3 linked regions of the Homo sapiens genome follow. The protein of the gene in region 3 interacts with the protein of the main gene of each other region in a biochemical or structural test. Each region holds a gene or a part of one and is shown on either strand. Other genes may lie near its edges. The genes, in order: TCEAL2, ARK2N and SRPK1.

Region 1 (3,827 bases), on a different chromosome or scaffold from region 3:
GAGAAAAGTAATTTGTGTTCTCTGGGAAAAGAAAGATTAGTAGAAAGAAAACAAAGAAATGAAATCACCTGCTAGCTCACAACTCAGAAAACCACTGTTAACCTTTCATGTATTTAACAAAAACAGACAGATTCTGTAGATGATATTATAAGCTGCTTTATTTTTCCACGAATCATGACGTCTCTGCAATGCACATGTGTGAAAATCTGCTACTGAAACATAGAGCAAGCAAACACTGGCAGGTGGGTCAAAACGCTACTGGTAGCAGGAGGAACGACTAAAGCAAAGTATTACCATAAGGTTAAAACATATGGCCTGACAAATGCCTGCCAGGGACACTACACATAAGGAATGTCTTCAGTGTCCCTTCGTGGGGCCCTGCAGCCACCCCTGAATTCCCTTGGACCCCTAGGATAGAAGGGGTCCTGTAAATTTCTTTGCATCCACAAAAACGCCCCCAATTTCTGTTTGCTTTTTCTCCTTTTATCCTCCACCCTAGCCATGTTGTCAAATTCTCTTATCATGTCCTCATTGCTGAAATTCATATCATGTATGGCTTCCTTATATTGCTTGAGGTACTGAGCCAGCCCCTTGTTGGTTTTTCTTTTGGCTTTCCTGGGTATATCATCCTCAGCTGGGCGCTTTCCTGCAGCCCTTGTTTCACTTTCTGGCTCTCCCTCACTCTCTGGCTCTCTTTCACTGTCTGGCTCTCCTTCACCCTCTGCCCTTCCCCCTCTCTCTGGCTTTCCCTCTGTCTTTGATCCTCCCTGCATCTCTGACTTTCCCTTCCTCTCTGACTTTCCTTCTCCTTTTGCCTTTCCCGCACTCTCTGGCTTTTCTTTATCCTTTAACGGTTCCTCAACTCTCTTGCCCGTGTTTTCTGTGTTTCCCTCGTTTTCTAACTTCTTGTCTTCCAGAATACAAGCTACTTCTGGCTTTCCCTCGTGCGGTGGCTGTTCTTCATTGTCTATCTTTCCTTGATTCGAAGGCATTCCTTCATTTTCATTGAAGAGTTTTTCCATGTCGAGATTTCCCCTCCTTTTCCTTTCCTGGGGGATGGGTGTGGAGGGAAGAGGAGACAAAGAGGAGACATGGGAGACTGAGGGCATGGGGTGGAATGCAGGTCTGGATACTACTTGCATCTCACCCCTGGTGAGGGTTCCCCTAAGCTGACTGGGCCTCCAAGAGGGCCTTCTGCCCACCACGTAGCCCACCACTCCTCCCACACACGTGAGCCAGCTGTTCCCTGGCAGGCCCTGCCACCTTCTCTGCACTGGTTCAGCCTGGTAAGGTGTGTGTTCATGTAGGTAAGGGGATGGGCAGGGGCCCCAATTCGGCCCTGACTGTGCCCTCCACACTCTCAACCCTTGTGGGCCCCTGTCCATGCAGCCCCCTGCTTTCACGGACCTGCGGGGATTCTGGACAGGTTGCTCTTCCTTTTCAGGCCTCTCAGAGCGCTGGGAACAACAGACGCGCAGACCTGCGGACAGACAGGAGACAGGGGCAGGGGCTGCGCGCTTAGCGGGCTCACAGGGACTCGGTTCCCTTTCCTGAGTCCAGGCCCTGCTTACCCACCGTTTTCCTCCCCTACCTCCCCCGCACCCCAGCCGCCATTTCTTTCCAGGCCTCGGGCACCAAACCAGGATGCTTTCCAAACTGCGTTTGTCTCTGTGTCCCCCTTCCCCGGAGGCAACCTGCCCCAGCGCCACCTCATTTTTGCGGAGATCAAGTGTTTCCATGGGTGTAGATTGTGAGAAGGGGTTATTTCCAGAATATGTCTACGTTTCACTGTCGCACTGCGGGGTCGCTACCCCCACCCCCCATTTCCAGCACTAAAATGGATGGAGGACTCAGTGCAAGGGGGCGTCGAGAAGGCGAGCCAGGCTTGCTTCGGGGGTTCTCCCTCCACTGCCCCCGCCCCCGCGACTCCGCATCCCCCTCCTCCCCAATCTACCGGATCCCTTCTCCGCCCCCTCCCCAATCCTACTGCCAGCCCCCTCCACCCCTGTCCCAGGGTCCGCCGGCAGCGCACGCCTTCACACTGACCTGCGGGGACCCAGGACAGGCCTGTGCCTCCTGCGGCTCGCTGAAGCCCGCTCGCTGCTCCCCCGCCGCCTGGGCAGCTCAGACAGCTGATTCTGCGCGGGCGCCCGGACCCGACCGCTGGGCGGGCTGGCGGGCGGGCGCGGGGGCTGGTGCCCACGTAGGCGCCGGGCGGGTCACGTGAGCACCGCGTCACCGGAGCTCTGCCCCCGCTCTTGCCTGACACACCTCACCTTGGAGCTGGGCCCCCCTCTCTTTCCTGACATACCTCACCTTCCATCCCTGAGGGACCGGAGGCTGGGGACGGTCGGAGTCTCGGTGCGTTTGTGTAGCAAAGTGGGGTCGCGGAGAAGAGGAGGAGAGGTGGCTTTCTGACCCTAGGTGCTTTACCTGACGCAGCTCACAGCATCCTCGCAAGGCATATCTCTCTGATGCCCATTATCGCCAGGTGTGACAGCTGATCATAGAGGTACCGGACTTTGCCAAGAGCGCTCAGCCCCAGAACTCCACAGCCCACTTTCAATACCGGCTCTGCCTGACTCCAGAGCCCGGGGGGTAGTGGTGCCTGCCAGGAAGCTGAGCTGCCACCTTGAGTGGCGGTGTTCCTGGGGTTCTGTCCTGGGCCTCCTCTCTCCTCAGTCCTCAAGTTGTCTCTCCCTGTGTGATCTCATTCATTTCCAGTAAACACCGATGACTCCCAGATCTACAGCTCCAGGCTGTTCCCTTCTCCGTGTCTCATATCAGCTTTGCCAACTGTCTATTGGACATCACCGCCTGAGTGTCCCTGAGGGACCCCAAAGCCCGTGTACCCCAAATTGATTTACCAACTTCCTTCTTGCCATCTCCCTTGGTCTCTCTCCACACTTGAAACTTACCTTCCAACATTTGATCAGTTTTCATAGAGAGAGAATGTCAGACAGGTAGAAAAGAAAGCATTAAAACATTTTAAATATGAATTTCAGATGCACAAATTCATCATAGTCCTTGGTTTACAACACACCCTTATCATCGATCCCTGCTTGTCCCTCTTCCTTCCCTTTTCTTTCCCGTCCTATTATTTCCTCCCCTTCCCATCCTTTGTCTTTTTTTTCTTTCCTTTTCTTTCACATTCGTGAAGCCACCACCCACAAAAACTAAGAATCACCAATATTTTAGCTTCTACAGTATAGTGACATGTATATGTATATATACACATGTTTATTTATACACACATATATGTATAGATGTATATGTGTGTACATATGTATGTGTATGTCTTGTGTATATCTGGGCAACAACTATTTTTATTTTGATTTGCAAAATACCTTATCATGATTACAGGATTATGAATTATGTGTGTTACACAAGCAATTCTGATTATATTTCTGCTACACATCTTTCTTCATTTAGTAAAACCTTGATCTTCCTACAGTATTTTGCTCTATCAATATGTGTATTCGTCATTATCACCACATCACCAATAATTCTGTCCTCAATGTTGAATTTTTTTCCTGAATTATCGAGGCTAGGTGTTTCAATTTCATCAGTATAAACTTCCATAAAATTATTATAATTATTCAAGAATTTGATGAAAATAATATCAAATCAGTTGAAAAGAACTGATTTTCTGTTTTAATCATCTAATTATAGTGATTTTAAGCTGTCTTCAGTAACTATTTGCTAAGTTATTTTGCTAATGGAGCCAAAGTATTAACAACTATTTCTCCTCTTTTAAAACATATACACAAAAATGTGGGATTCAAAATTAGTATCATTAAATTTGAAGAAATGTCATTTTATCTAAA
Region 2 (3,727 bases), on a different chromosome or scaffold from region 3:
TAAAAAAAAAACAAGGTACCATCACCAATATTTCAGATTCTTCTAACTTTATTCATTCATTATGGATCTAGAAACTAGTAATATTCCTTCCACATTGTTAGATAATCCAAACAATTCTGGTAGTGCAATTTTTGCCATAAAAATTGCAATCCAAACCTGCTGGTATTTAACATGGTTACAAAACCCAGATGATATGCTAAAACTGGTCACTTTAAATTGGGGTCTGCTATTTTTTTTTTTTTTTTTGAAATGGAGTTTTGCTCTTGTTGCTCAGGCTGGAGTGCAAAGATGTGATCTCAGCTCACTGCAACCTCCACCTCCCGGGTTCAAGCGATTCTCCCACCTCAGCCTCCTGAGTAGGTGGGATTACAGGCATGCACCACCACGCCAGGCTAATTTTGTATTTTAGTAGAGACGGGGTTTGGCCATGTTGGTAAGGCTGGTCTCGAACTCCTGACCTCAGGTAATCTACCCGCCTCGGCCTCCCAAAGTGCTGGGATTACAGGTGTGAGCCTCCGCGCCTAGCCTAGGGTCTGCTCTTATCTGTAATGCTTGGTCAATATACTAGTGCAAGATAAGAGGCATGAGAAAGTGATGGGGGTGCTAAATACAGACTGCCTCGTGAATGTTAACAACTCCTAGACTAATAGTGTGAGACATTTGCCAAATTTCCTGTCAGAGCCTTAGATAAATTGTGCCACACAGAAAACAAATCAGCTAGGACCCACACCAAGGCAATGAGATGCCGTGCTCTACAAGAGACACCAAAGGCATTCTGGGATGCCTCTGCCTCTTCCTTCTTCTATTTCAGAGCCAGGACCATTAGTCCTTTTCTGTCACTGTAACCCTCTTCAGCATCCCACACATTCCTTTGGGAGCTCCAGTATAGAACCTGACATTCTCTGGCCTTTGGGCCTTTTCTGCTCTGCCCCTCCCCACCCCGCCTCACCCCCCATGGAGGACTTCACAGGATTCCAATGGCAGAACAGTGCCTAAAGCATACAGAAAAGTGAGCCAAAGATGCTATGAGGTTCTTCAAATACTGTCAGTGGTAGTAATCTTTTCCAGTTCTAAGACAAGAACAAGCCCTGTAGAGAAAAATGTAAATACCGCAATTACCATATATTAAACTGAAAATAAAGCAGAGCACTTATATTTAGCTATTGTGACAGCTGGCTGTCTCTGTGTAGGTCTCTGCCTGTGTAGGTCTTTGGAAAGATAACTTCTTTCACTATATGAGAAAATTCTAAATTTTGTCCTCCCACTACAGACCTTTTCAACAAGAAAGGGTAAGAAAAAGTTACCAAGAAAAGGTAGTTATCAAAATAGGGTAAGAAAAAGAAGCACAGAAAAAGTAGTAACTAAATTATCATGGAAAACAGTTTCTTTCTGTCTTTAAAGGAAATAATCCAGCTACTTTTTAAACTGTAAATCCACTGGGTAAGAACTAGGCCTGAGCTTTGCAACACACTGAAGAGAAAGTAATACTACATACTGTATGACAGTCGCATGCTAGGCATAAAAAAAATAAAAAAATAAGTCACTACTCATTTAGCTTTAAAAACAGCAAATTACTACTTTTAGTTCTTTTTTTCTTTCTTTTTTTTTTTTTTTATTGAGACAGAGTCTCACTCTGTCACCCAGGCTGGAGAGAGGTGGTGCAATCTCGGCTCACTGCAACCTCCACCTGCCGGGATCAAGCAATTCTCCTGCCTCAGCCTCCCAAGTAGCTGCGACTACAGGAGCCCACGCCACCGTGCCCAGCTAATTTTTGTATTTTTTTTAGTATAGATGGGGTTTCACCATATTGGACAGGCTGGTCTCGAACTCCTGACCTCGTGATCTGCCCACCTCGGACTCCCAAAATGCCAGGATTATAGGCGTGAGCCACAGCACCCAGCCTACTTTTAGTTCCTTAAACAGCACGTTAAACAACCTTAAAAAGTGAAGGAAGAGGGCTGGACATGGTAGCTCACGCCTGAAATTCCAGCACTTTGAGATGCAGAAGTGGGCAGATTACTTGAGATCAGGAGGGCAAGACCAGCCTGGCCATCATGGTGAAACCCCATCTCTACTAAAAATATAAAAAAATTAACGGGGCGTGGTGACGGGTACCTGTAATCCCAGCTACTGGATAGGCTGAGGCAGGAGAATCACTTGAACGAGGAGGCAGATGCTGCAATGAGCGGAGACTGCCACCGCATCCAGCCTGAGCGACAGAGCTGGAATCCATCTCCAACAACAACAACAAAAAAGAGTGAAGGAAGAGCTCAAAAATCTAAAATCTGGCTGGGTGTGGTGGCTCATGCCTGTAATCTTAGCACTTCGGGAGGCCAAGACAGGCGGATCACTGGAGGTCAGGAATTCGAGACCAGTCTGGCCAACATGGTAAACCCTGTCTCTACTAAAAATACAAAAATTAGCCAGGCGCAGTGGCACACACCTGTAATCCCAGCTACTTGTGAGGCTGAGGCACGAAAATTACTTGAACCCGGGAGGCAGAGGTTGCAGTGAGCCCAGAATGTGCCATTGTACTCCAGCCTGGGTGACTGGAGACTCCCTCTTAAAAAAAAAAAAAAAAAAAAATCTAAACTCTTACCATCAATTTGATGCAGATAAACATGAAGAACATGACCATACTTCATCTCCTTCACTATACTGATTCTGAAACATGGCCATTCTGGTCTAATTATTAAAAACCCTACACTAGGAACAGGAAACCCAGGATTCATTTCTCTGTACTGCCACCATGTTAGGGACAAATCAAGATTACCATCCCTATTGTAAGGATGGGGAAAATGCTCAGAACCTACCTTCTTGACAAGAAGGCTGATGGAAAAGATAAGGTATTTAAAGTTTTAACTTCCCAGGGAAAAAAATCCTAAATAAGTTCAGTTTACCACAGCTATAAGCCTTCCTCACCAAGACTTCTGCTTCTTCTTGCCCCAACTACATTTGTTTGCAGTGAGCCCTTACTAGCAACAAAAATGAAGCCATTTTCAGATATATTAATACAGTTTCCTAAACATGCTGGATACAAGAGTTACCTGAGGCTATTATTAAAAAGAGATTCCCAGAAACCATTTCAGATTTATTGACAGAATCATCAGGAGAAACCTAGGAGTGTGAATATTTATAAACACACTGGGTAATTTCTACGCTCTGGCAAAATTTAAGAAGTACTTGTAGCAAGAGCAACTCGTTGCAGTGCAAGAGAGTAATTAGAAATCCAGTGACTGAGCCACTAATCACTTCCTTACTCAGTCTACTTCAGCATATTAACATAATGCTGGTTAGCATTTCTGAGGGCCTACTATGTGCTGTCCTCCGTAGTAAACACACTGTATTTCACTTAGTGGTAACAATAACCTTTTGGAGTAGATACTATAAAGGTTGTGCCCCAGTTTTGTAGATAGGGAAAACTGAGGCTTTATATAATTTACCTGAGGACATGCAGTTTCTAAGTGGCCACTGGTTCAAAATCACCCACTACAGTGTTCAATTCCAGCATCAACTTAAAAAAAGCAAACACATGGCAAGAATTGAAATGGAAAATTCAGGTCTTTTGTTGATCAGTAGCTTCTCTAATTTCGACTTACTTTTTAATCCCTGCATGTGGTTCAAGTCTTTTGCCTAGGTTAAAACTAAAACTAAATATATATTTTGGATGCAAGATAATCATCTAATTGCTTGGAAAAAGGCAACCTACTCTATCTTTAGTGCGTAC
Region 3 (3,500 bases):
TTTTTTTTTTTTTAATTTAAGAATCCAGGCTAGTTGTTTTATGCCACCTTAGTTTGGATTTGTTTGATTGTTTCCTCATGATTAAATTCAGGTTAACCGTGTTTGTCAAGCATAGTACATGGATTATTGCATTAGAATATGCATTCGAATGCATATTAGTATATTGCATTAGAAGGCACATGGTGTGAATTTGTGCTTATCATTGGTGGTAGTAAGTTTGATCACTTGGTTAAGGCAGTGCCTTCCAGATTTCCCAGTTGTAAAGGTACTTTGTTCTTTTTGTAATTAATAAGCAATCTGTGGAATGATATTTTGACACTGTGACAATCCTTTTTCCCGACAGTCTTTCACATAGTTGTTTTAGTATTCACTGATTCTTACCTGAATCAGTAATAGTATACTATAGTGATTGTAAAAATGGTGATTTTCTATTTCTGTAATCCCTTATGTATTTATTATTTGGCTTTCTTCTCTAAAGAAGATGTTTCTCTTCCTCCTGCCTCCACACTTACTTTCAGATCAGTGTGGACTTGTTCTGTTTTTAATTCATATATTAACTCATAATTTTATCCTTTATAGTGGTCTGGCCGGGCGCAGTGGCTCACGCTTGTAATCCCAGCACTTTGGGAGGCCAAGGCAGGTAGATTATGAGGTCAGGAGTTCAAGACCAGCCTGGCCAATATGGTGAAACCCCATCTGTACTAAAAATACAAAAATTAGCCCAGCGTGGTGGTACACACCTGTAGTGCCGAGAGGCAGAGGTTGCAGTGAGCTGAGATAGTGCCACTGCACTCCAGCCTGGGCAACAGAGCCAAGACTCTGTCTCAAAAAAAAAAAAAAAAAAGAAGTCTCCATGTTGGCTGGTGACATCCTTTTCAAGATGGTTCCTGTTTCTTCCTGACAGGTTCTTTTATTTGTTAGAACAGCAAGGTGTTCCAAGTTTACCCTGTTATTTTTCCTACCTTGGATTTGGCCATTTTTCCAAGGAGCTCAGGCTTTCCTTTAATGGAGAATGTTAAAGTCTGAGCACTAGACCATTACTATATATGTATGTCTTAACTTGCATGTAGAAGCCAGTGGGGGTGGAAGACATCAAGATACTACTAAAATCTCTGTAGTGCCCTGCACAATTTTAGACTCAGAGTATTCCTGCTGTGTGGTGTCATCAGGTTGTTCATACATAAGGACAACACATGGTGGCACTGGAATCAAGATTAGTTTTGTAAAATACAGAGCATTAAGCAAGTTTCCTATTTAAAAAAAAATGTTGGCATTTACGTTTTTGAGGTTTAAGTCTTTCTTGTACATTCATCTCTTCTATAGTTAAGGAATAATTTGTTTTTCCTTGCTTTGAAGCTGTGAGAGTGGGAATTTTTACCCTGGACACCAATTTTGATATTAGGGAAGAAACTAATTTACCTGAAGCTAATCAACAGCTTGAGGCTTGAGCCTACTGCTTTCTTTCACTATTTGCATATGTAGGTTTCACTTTTTCTTTTACCATTGAGTATTTTAATGTACATAATAATATTGATGAAGCCAGCCGCCCACAATTTAATGTTTCATGAATGCTTTCATTGACTATAGCATTAGACTTTGAAATTTTAGAATATTAACAGCTACATATTTATTCATTCAAGCTCTGTAACTTTTTATACTGAAAGAAAATAATACATAACATTTAATAGGGTGGAATTCACAGCTTGTCTTGCCGTGTTCTTCTTTTGTGCCGTTTTTTCCCTCCTTAATGAATTCCTAGATATCTGCATGGTATTTGAAGTTTTGGGGCATCATCTGCTCAAGTGGATCATCAAATCCAATTATCAGGGGCTTCCACTGCCTTGTGTCAAAAAAATTATTCAGCAAGTATGTATCTTGAATCAGCAAGTATCTTAGTCTTGACTATGTAGTGATTTTTTAATATTCTTGAAGTGTCAGGACTTTATTTTTTCCAATAGAATTTTTGTTTTAAGGCCGGGTGTGGTGGCTCATTCCTGTAATCCCAGCACTTTGGGAGGCCGAGGCGGGCAGATCACGAGGTCAGGAGATCAAGACCATCCTGGCTAACATGGTGAAACCTCCTCTCTACTCAAAATACAAAAAGTTAGCCGGGTGTCTTGGCAGGCACCTGTAGTCCCAAGCTACTCGGGAGGCTGAGGCAGGAGAATGGCGTGAACCCAGGAGGCGGAGCTTGCGGTGAGCCGAGATCACACCACTGCACTCCAGCCTGGGCGACAGAGCGAGACTCCGTCTCAAAAAAAAAAAAGAATTTTTGTTTTAAAATTCTTTGTTTTAAAAAGTAAGTTATTGGCTGGGCGCGGTGGCTCACGCCTGTAATCCCAGCACTTTGGGAGGCCGAGGCGGGCAGATCACCTGAGGTCAGGAGCTCGAGACCAGCCTGGCCAACAGTGCGAAACCCCGTCTCTACTAAAAATACAAAAATTAGCCGGGTGTGGTGGTAAGCGCCTATAATCCCAGCTACTCGGCAGGCTGAGGCAGGAGAATCGCTTGAACCCGGGAGGCGGAGGTTGCAGTGAGCTGAGATCGCGCCACCGCGCTCCAGCCTGGGCGACAGAGCAAGACTCCATCTCAAAAAAAAAAAAAAAGTTAATTGCTAAAATTAAATATTTCATTCAACCTTTAGAATTTATTGTGCTTATTCTCTTTTTAAATGTTTTAGCATAACCATTTTCCCCCAGGTTTGCCTCCTATAATAATTAGAAAGGGAAGCTGAGGTTCCTGACTTGGGAACATTGGAGCCCTTATCCAGAAGTTCTGGTTGCAAATAGTAATTTTACATGAATAGATAATTGCTATGTCAGATTATTGCCATCTCTTTATACAGCATGATTCATAGGCATTTTCTAATTTTCTAAAGAGCCTTCAATATACAGTATAGATTTTACCATCAGGAAAATATTAATACTTCAAGGTGCAAAAATTTGTTTGGATTATATGTCCTGGAAAGAGCTCCAAACTGGGCAGCAAGAGACCTCAATTCTTCCTCAGTGAGGAAATTTGAATTAAAGATATCTAAATGTCTGTCAGCACCTACATTACAACACTTAGAGGGTGTGTGTGTGTTGAAGTTTATTCTCAGTCTTTGCATTGTACATAGTTGAAGAATATCTCCAAATAGAATCAGCTTTGTAAAACATTGAAGAATTTTTTATTGTAAATAATTTCTTGCCTTTTTCATAGTTTAATCTTTCTGAGAAAGTTTATTTGTGCTTTTTTAAAAGGTGCTTTTATTCTCTATAGAAAACGCTATCATATCTTTTTTTTTTTTTTAATGTCATGTTATAATCTCTTACTTCTCCAGAAAGCCTGTATTTTGTGTTTGCAAGTCTGCCACTCTATTTCCATTCAGGTGTTACAGGGTCTTGATTATTTACATACCAAGTGCCGTATCATCCACACTGACATTAAACCAGAGAACATCTTATTGTCAGTGAATGAGCAGTACATTCGGAGGCTGGCTGCAGAAGCAACAGAATGGC

What was found.
Region 1: of the proteins of SRPK1 (region 3) and TCEAL2, one has a biochemical effect on the other in vitro, tested with the Homo sapiens proteins (one large-scale study listed by IntAct).
Region 2: of the proteins of SRPK1 (region 3) and ARK2N, one has a biochemical effect on the other in vitro, tested with the Homo sapiens proteins (one large-scale study listed by BioGRID and IntAct).

What each region holds. Positions count from the first base shown.
Region 1 is NC_000023.11:102,124,026-102,127,852, reverse strand, and holds TCEAL2 (transcription elongation factor A protein-like 2), read right to left. Parts: upstream 2,175-3,827; 5' UTR 2,047-2,174; intron 1,481-2,046; 5' UTR 1,408-1,480; intron 1,050-1,407; 5' UTR 1,023-1,049; coding exon 339-1,022; 3' UTR 141-338; downstream 1-140. UniProt on the Homo sapiens protein: May be involved in transcriptional regulation.
Region 2 is NC_000018.10:46,243,461-46,247,187, reverse strand, and holds part of ARK2N (protein ARK2N), read right to left. Parts: intron 1-3,727. UniProt on the Homo sapiens protein: AMPK substrate important for exercise capacity and skeletal muscle function.
Region 3 is NC_000006.12:35,872,599-35,876,098, reverse strand, and holds part of SRPK1 (SRSF protein kinase 1), read left to right. Parts: intron 1-1,759; coding exon 1,760-1,866; intron 1,867-3,370; coding exon 3,371-3,500. UniProt on the Homo sapiens protein: Serine/arginine-rich protein-specific kinase which specifically phosphorylates its substrates at serine residues located in regions rich in arginine/serine dipeptides, known as RS domains and is involved in the phosphorylation of SR splicing factors and the regulation of splicing.